Linked DNA regions of Homo sapiens. The protein of the gene in region 1 purifies or fractionates together with the protein of each later gene. This does not show direct contact. Each region holds a gene or a part of one and is shown in the gene's direction. Other genes may lie near its edges.

What was found. Proteins that work in one complex are often made in the same cells at the same time.
Region 2: the proteins of SLC2A9 (region 1) and NUP107 purify together in Homo sapiens (affinity purification with mass spectrometry; one large-scale study listed by BioGRID and IntAct). This does not show direct contact.

Annotation. Positions count from the first base shown.
Region 1 is NC_000004.12:9,825,724-9,829,497, reverse strand, and holds the end of SLC2A9 (solute carrier family 2, facilitated glucose transporter member 9), read left to right. Parts: intron 1-2,897; coding exon 2,898-3,101; 3' UTR 3,102-3,274; downstream 3,275-3,774. UniProt on the Homo sapiens protein: High-capacity urate transporter, which may play a role in the urate reabsorption by proximal tubules. May have a residual high-affinity, low-capacity glucose and fructose transporter activity. Transports urate at rates 45- to 60-fold faster than glucose.
Region 2 is NC_000012.12:68,724,978-68,728,477, forward strand, and holds part of NUP107 (nuclear pore complex protein Nup107), read left to right. Parts: intron 1-749; coding exon 750-819; intron 820-1,521; coding exon 1,522-1,640; intron 1,641-2,373; coding exon 2,374-2,412; intron 2,413-3,500. UniProt on the Homo sapiens protein: Plays a role in the nuclear pore complex (NPC) assembly and/or maintenance. Required for the assembly of peripheral proteins into the NPC. May anchor NUP62 to the NPC. Involved in nephrogenesis.

The DNA of each region.
Region 1 (3,774 bases):
TGTTGCTCTTCTTTTTTTTTTTTTTTGACATTTTTGTCATGAAATCTTTGCCCGTGACTATGTCCCGAATGGTATTGCCTAGATTTTCTTCTAGGGTTTTTATAGTTTTGGGTTTTACATTTAAGTCTTTAAGCATCTTGAGTTAATTTTTGTATAAGGTGTAAGGAGGGGGTCCAGTTTTAATCTTTACCTCAGTCTCTCAAGTAGCTGGGATAACAGGCGACTGCCACCACGCCTAGCTAATTTTTGTAATTTTAGTAGAGATGGGGTTTCACAATGTTGGCCGGGCTGGTCCTGAACTTCTGACCTCAAGTGATCCACCCACCTCAGCCTCCCAAAGTGCTGGGATTACAGGTGTGAGCTACTGTGCTCGGCTGAGCCACATGTTCTTGACTGAATTTTGTGAAACTGTGAGAATAATCCTCACGACACCCATCAGGTCCCTTGGGAAAAGAAAGCCAAGCAAGAGGCAGCTGTGTGGGTGTCAGAGAGGTCCTAGGAAGCCCTGTTTGTGGCCTGGGATACGGCAGGAAGCCTCTCTGAGCCTCAGTCCATCCATCCACTCACTAAGATACTCAGAGCATCTACTGTATATCAGAGACTCTCCGGGCTCTGGGAATACAAGAAAAATGATGACTCCTGCCTTCAGATAGTTACCTCTTGGTAGGGAGAAGGTTAATAAACAGGCAGTTGCACACTATAATGCTGCATAGTGATGAGTGTTTTTGAAGGCAATGAAGCAGGGCTGGGAGGGGCTATTTCAAAATGAGAGTCAACGAGAACCTCTCTGAGAAAATGACCTTTAAGTCGGATGAAGAGGAGTAAGAAAGCAGGATATACAGAGGCCTAAACGAAGATTATTCCAGCAAGAGAGAACAGCATGTGCAAAGATTCTGAGGCCTAATACTGGAGGGAAATCATAAAGGCAGTGGAGTTGGGGCAAAGAAAGTGAGGAGAGTAAGATCAGAGAAATAAGAGGGACACATGGTCGGTGGCCTTGGAGGCCATGGTGAGGACTTTGGCTTTCCTGCAGGTGACTTAGGAAGTCATGGTGGGTTTTGAGCAGAGGAGTGACAAGTTTTGTCCTTTGTTTAACAGGATCACTCTGGCTTGTCTGTTAAGAATAATCTTAAGATTATGCTTAAAGTGAAAAGCAGGGAAATCAGTTGACAAGCTATTGCAAAAATCCAAGCAAAACATGATGGTGGCTTGCACCAAAATTAGGTTACAATAGAAGTGATGACAAACCCTCAGATTTGGAATACATTTCAAGGTGGAGCAACATGATTTCCTGATGGAGCAGATGTGGGTGGGAGAGAGAGAGAGAAGCTCAGCCTGCCTCCAAGTGTTTTTGTTGGCATAATCAATCAGAAGGATGGAGGTGCCATCAGCAGAGATGAGGAAGGCTAGAGCAGGCAGTTTTAGAGGCTCCACTTTGGACTTGATAAGTCAGATGTCCATTCCGCCTGCAGATGGGGGTGTGGAGGATGTTGAATGCAAAATTGATATATCTCATTTCATCTTCAAAACAATGTGTGGGTATATATCACCATGTTGCAAATGAGGAAACAGATGCTCAGTGGATTGAAATTCTATCTTAAATGGCACATCATAAGTGTTAGAACAACATGTGAGTAATGGGATCAGGATTTGAATCCCACTCGACTGGCTTCAGAGCCCATACTCTCCCCCTTCTCCACACTACTCTTGAAGTCTTTGTACGAGCAGAAGGCACAGTCTCAAGAGCTAAGCACCCCCAGGTGTGGAACATTTACTGCATGTGGCACTTTAAAGGGAATGTCTCATTTAATTCATACAACAACCCTACATGTACCATGATTATCCTCTTTTTCAATCATGGAAACTGAGGGACAAAGAGTCTCAGATTTAGTAAATGGTAGATCTAGGATGTGATCCAGGGATCAAGCTTAAGCACTTTGCCATTCTCCAAAAATAAATGTTTGTCAAATCAAAGAATAGAATGGAATTGACTAAAATCTGGATATTGCTTCTTGGGAAATATTATTCAAAGACAGTGTCACCTTATCTTTGGATCAGTAGATGTTTGTTGCATATAATAGTCACAATCCTGACAGCTGGGACCCAGAAAGTCTTTTATTTCTGGAATGGTGGCTCATGCCTATAATCCCAGTACCTGGGAGACCAAAGCAAGCAGATTGATTGAGGCTAGGATTTCAAGTCTTTTATTCCACAAATATGTCCTGAGTACCTCCTATAAGGCACAGGAGCTACAGAGGTGACTGAGTCACTGAGAAGCTCAAGGTCTAGTGCAGTTGGCAGGGTTATTCTAGTCCAAACACTAATCAGGATACATAAAACGGAGTGATTGCATTGAGCATTTCTATTTTTTCTGATCTCTCTTATTTGTGCAAGGCCGCCTCAGAGTATCAATTAGTGAGTTAGATCATTTGCATATTAGAAAAAACTGGCATTACCTTGGCCTATTCTGTGCTCCACATTCTTCCTATGAACTAAGGCATTTCTCTTCCCTTTTGATGTCATTCTTGTCTCATGTGTATAGTAGAAGCAAGAAGACAATGTGGTTAATTGTAAATATAAGCTTAAGCTAATATTCAGCAAGCATTCCATTTTGCTTTCGTGATGATTAATTTTTAAATGCCAAATTTGCAACAACAACAACAAAAAAGTGCCATTTTCTCATCTTTCCCAGAGTTTGAAGCTGATTTATTCAAGCCTTATGTGATAACACTTCATGTAGGGTACACTTGCCTTATTGAGCCAGCATCACACATGGTGTTTTGTCTAGGAGTATTGGTATATGAATGTGGAGCTATCTTAAAAATCTGTGTAGAGATGGTTTAACAGCAAGTTTACTGATTATCTATTTGAGGGTTTTTGTCTCTGCCTTTCCACAGAAAAGTCTGGACACCTACTGTTTCCTAGTCTTTGCTACAATTTGTATCACAGGTGCTATCTACCTGTATTTTGTGCTGCCTGAGACCAAAAACAGAACCTATGCAGAAATCAGCCAGGCATTTTCCAAAAGGAACAAAGCATACCCACCAGAAGAGAAAATCGACTCAGCTGTCACTGATGGTAAGATAAATGGAAGGCCTTAACAAGTTTCCTCCTCCACGTTGGACAATTATGTCAAAAACAGGATTGTCTACATGGATGATCTCACTTTTCAGGAAACTTAAAATTTACCCATTATTGGGAAGCTTAAATGAATTGAAGCTATGCAAGTCTTTTATATTATTAAATATTTAAAAGTAAACCTGTACTAATCTAACATTGCAACTGTGTTAGCATTATTCACAACTGAATCTCCCAAACCCTTCTGGAAGCTGCAAGGAATCACTCTATGTTTCAGTAGACCCAGCGTTCTTCTATATAGGTAGATGACCTGCCTTCTTCATGACTCAACCCATGATTTCAAAATGAAATTGGGGAAATAGTAGGTTAATGCTTTATCAAAGAAAAATCAATTTGGTCTGATAGGGGACTCAACGGATTAGAGATCACAGACTGAGGTTCTAGTCCCAGCTTTACCACAAGCAGCCTTGACCTGCCCTCAACCTGGATCCCAGTGCCTCAATGACCCTAGGCTTCCATCCCTGATATAGGCTTTCAGAAGTCAGTGGAAAGATTATTCATAGTGCCTAAGAAATGCCTGTTTCCAATATTTGACCTTGTGGATCTCAGGCTTTGGAGAGCCTAATACCAACACACCAGCCTGCAGATTTTGTCTTTCCCAAACTGTGTTCCAGGAATGGGCTCAAAACTTCAGGG
Region 2 (3,500 bases), on another chromosome or scaffold:
GTGACATTTCATTTCAGAGGGAAAGGGATGGTTTATTTAAATAAATGGCGCTGGCATAATTGGCTTTCCATCCAGAAGAAAACAAAGCTAGATCCTACTTCATGCCATGTAACTAAAATAAATTCCATATAGAGCAAAGGTTTGAATGTAAAAATTAATAAATGCTGAAAGAAAATTTAGACAGCCAACTAAATAAAAATTAAAATACGTTTGACAACAAAAAATGAACTATATTCTTCAAAAAATCAAGCTGCAAATAAGTTAGAAAAGGTTTTCTCTACTCTGTACCTGATCACTATTTTTTTTTTTCACCCTTGGTGCCATGTACAGAAGAGAATACTCAAAGAATGCTTTCATGTACTGCTGCTCATGTTGAAAGAAATCTTAATAGTTTATTTTGCTTAGGTCACATGAGTTCTTCCTTTCTCGTCCACCATGTGTAGTGCCAAGGTAAATAGGAATAAAATATAAGAATAAAAGTTTAATACCATTGAGAGATTAAATTGTTATAACATAGGTCTCTACTTTCAAAGATGCTTTTCAGTTCTGGATTTGTAAGCTGTGAGTATATTCCAAAGGCAGTATCCTTTCCATGTTTTATTTTGTTTTGATCTTTCTAAGGCCCTTCATTTCCAGCTTTTTCTTTCTATATGTTCCTTCAAAAGTTTAACATTTTTAGTTTAACAGTGAATATATACTACAGAATGACTGCTAGAAGATTTATGGAAAATTAAAAACTTTTTTTTCAGAGAGTTCTGGAAGAGAATCAAGAACATTATCATATAGTTCAAAAGTTTCTTATCCTGGGAGACATTGATGGTAAGATATGGTTTTATTTTACTTTGTGTTTTTTGTGTGTGTTTTTTTTTTTTTTTTTGAGACAAAGTCTCACCCTGTTGCCCAGACTGGAGTGCAGTGGCTCAGTCTCAGCTCACTGCAACCTCTGTCTCCTGGGTTCACAAGATCCTTCAGTCTCAGCCTCCTGAGTAGCTGGGATTACAGGTGTGCACCACTACGCCTGGCTAATTTTTGTATTTTTAGTAGAGACGGGGTTTCGCTGTTGGCCAGGCTGGTCTCCAACTCCTGACGTCAGGTGATCTTCCCTCCCTGGCCTCCCAAAGTGCTATATGTTATAGACATGGGATTGCAGGCATGAGCGACTGCACCCAGCCAGTTTTATTTTACTCTTTATGAGTTCTTCATTGTCTTATAGTGATTTTTTAAAGTTATCCAAACAATGCATGTGACTTACCATATCTTTTAATCTTGATAAATATTAACCTATTTGAATGCAACTATTTACTTTATGTCAGAGGTGACCTTTCATTTGGTTTTTATAAAATAAAGTTCGGATTGAACCCAAACTCTGTTTCAAAGAGGGTGTAGAGTTATATCATGGCTATTAATTATGAGACAGTGACTTGAAAGCACTATAGGAGTGAAATAAATGTTCTTGGTAATGTTTATTTTTTTCTTTTGATTTTATTCCTATTGTTGAATCTTCACTTTGATGGCTTGTAGGTTTGATGGATGAGTTTAGCAAATGGCTTTCCAAAAGCAGAAACAATCTACCTGGACACCTGCTTCGCTTTATGACTCACCTTATTTTGTTTTTCCGTACTCTGGGACTACAGACCAAGGTATATAAAAATGAACGATTTCTTCTTCTCTGTAATGTTGATGCTATATACCTATTGTCAAGAAAACACTACTTTTTTTATTATTGTTTTCTAGAAATGGTGATAAGGAATCAAAAGTCTTCCATATAGTCTTGTATAGTCACTCAATGATAACTCACTGAGAGTGGCCCTTTAGGGTTCTAGTCTGTGGCCACAGAATGCTGTTGGTTAACTGGTTTTTAATAAATTCATAACTTTATCCTTGTCTGTACCCAGCTTTAAATCAACCAGCTAAGCTAACTAAACAAAGTGAGTGCTATGTGAGATTTTAAAACTTTGTTGGTTGTTGTTTTGTTGCTTTTTTTCTAAAAAAGAAGATAACATTTTGGTCAGAGTGCATGTAGAAAGTGAATGATACAGTAGTTGAAAGCTTGGGCTTTGGAGTAGGAGTCCTGAGTATATACCCTTATTCAGCAGCTTCTATCTGTGTAACTCTGGGTAAATAAAACTTCCCTTGGTCCTAATTTCATCCTCTGTAAAATGTGAACAATAATAGTAACTACCCAAAAAGAGTTATGGTAAGGTTAAATCAGGCAGTAGATGAACTTTGGTAAGCACTTAGCTTGGTGTATAGTTACTGCTCAGTGGTAAACATTACAATTATTAAATTATTTAATAATGGAATTTGTATCAAAAATTTTGTTACTTTCATATAAGCAGTGTATTTATAATTATGTCTTTTTTTCCTATGAAGGAGGAAGTTTCTATTGAAGTTTTAAAGACATACATACAGGTAAACTTTGAGAACCTACAACCTGATTGTTTTTTACTATTTTAATGAAAACAAAACTCAGAATGATGCTATTTTAATTCTCAGTGGTAAGAAAGCATCAGAATCCATAAGAGATCTTTTAATTATCAGCACAGTTGACCTTTGAATAATGCAGGGATTAGGAAAACAACCCCCACCGCCCCGCACAATCAAAAATTCACTATAACTTTTGACTCCCCAAAAACCTAACTACTGATACCCTACTGCTGACCAGAAATCATACCAATAACATAAACACACAATTAACACATTTTGTATATTACATGTATCATATGCAGTCATCCCTCAGTATACTTGGGGGATTGGCTCCAGGACCCCCACATATAACAAAATCTGTGTATACTCATGTCCCACAGTTGGCCCTGCAGAACCTGCATATACGAAAAATTGGCCTTCCATATTTGCAGATTTCACATCCAGATAACACTGTATTTTCTAAGTTGAGTTGAAAAAAATTTATGCAGAAGTGGACCTGCACAGTTCAATCCCGTGTTGTTCAAAGCTCAACTGTACTGTATTCTTATGATAATGTAAGTTAGAGAAAAGAAAACATTACTAAGAAAATCATAAGGGGCTCGGCGAGGTGGCTCATACCGGTAATCCCAACACTTTGGGAGGCAGAGGCGAGAGGACTGCTTGAGTCCAGACGTTTGAGATCAGCCTGGGCAACATAGGGAGACCCTTCTCTCTACTACAAAAAATTTTTTTAAATTAGCAGGGCACAGTGGTTCATATCTGTAAACCCAGCTACTCGGGAGGCTGAGGCAGGAAGATCGAGTGAGCCCAGGAGTTGGAGGTTGCAGTGAGCTGTGATCTCGCCACTGCCCTCCAGCTGGGTGACAGAGTGAGACCATCTCAAAAAAAAAAAAAAAAAACAATCAGGCCAGACGTGGTGGCTTGCGCCTGTAATCCCAGCACTTTGGGAAACAGAGGTGGGTGGATCGCTTGAGCCCAGGAGTTCAAGACTAGCCTGGGAAACAGCGAAAACCTGTCTTTTTTTTTTTTTTTTTTTTGAGACGGAGTCTTGCGCTGTCACCCGGGCTGGAGTG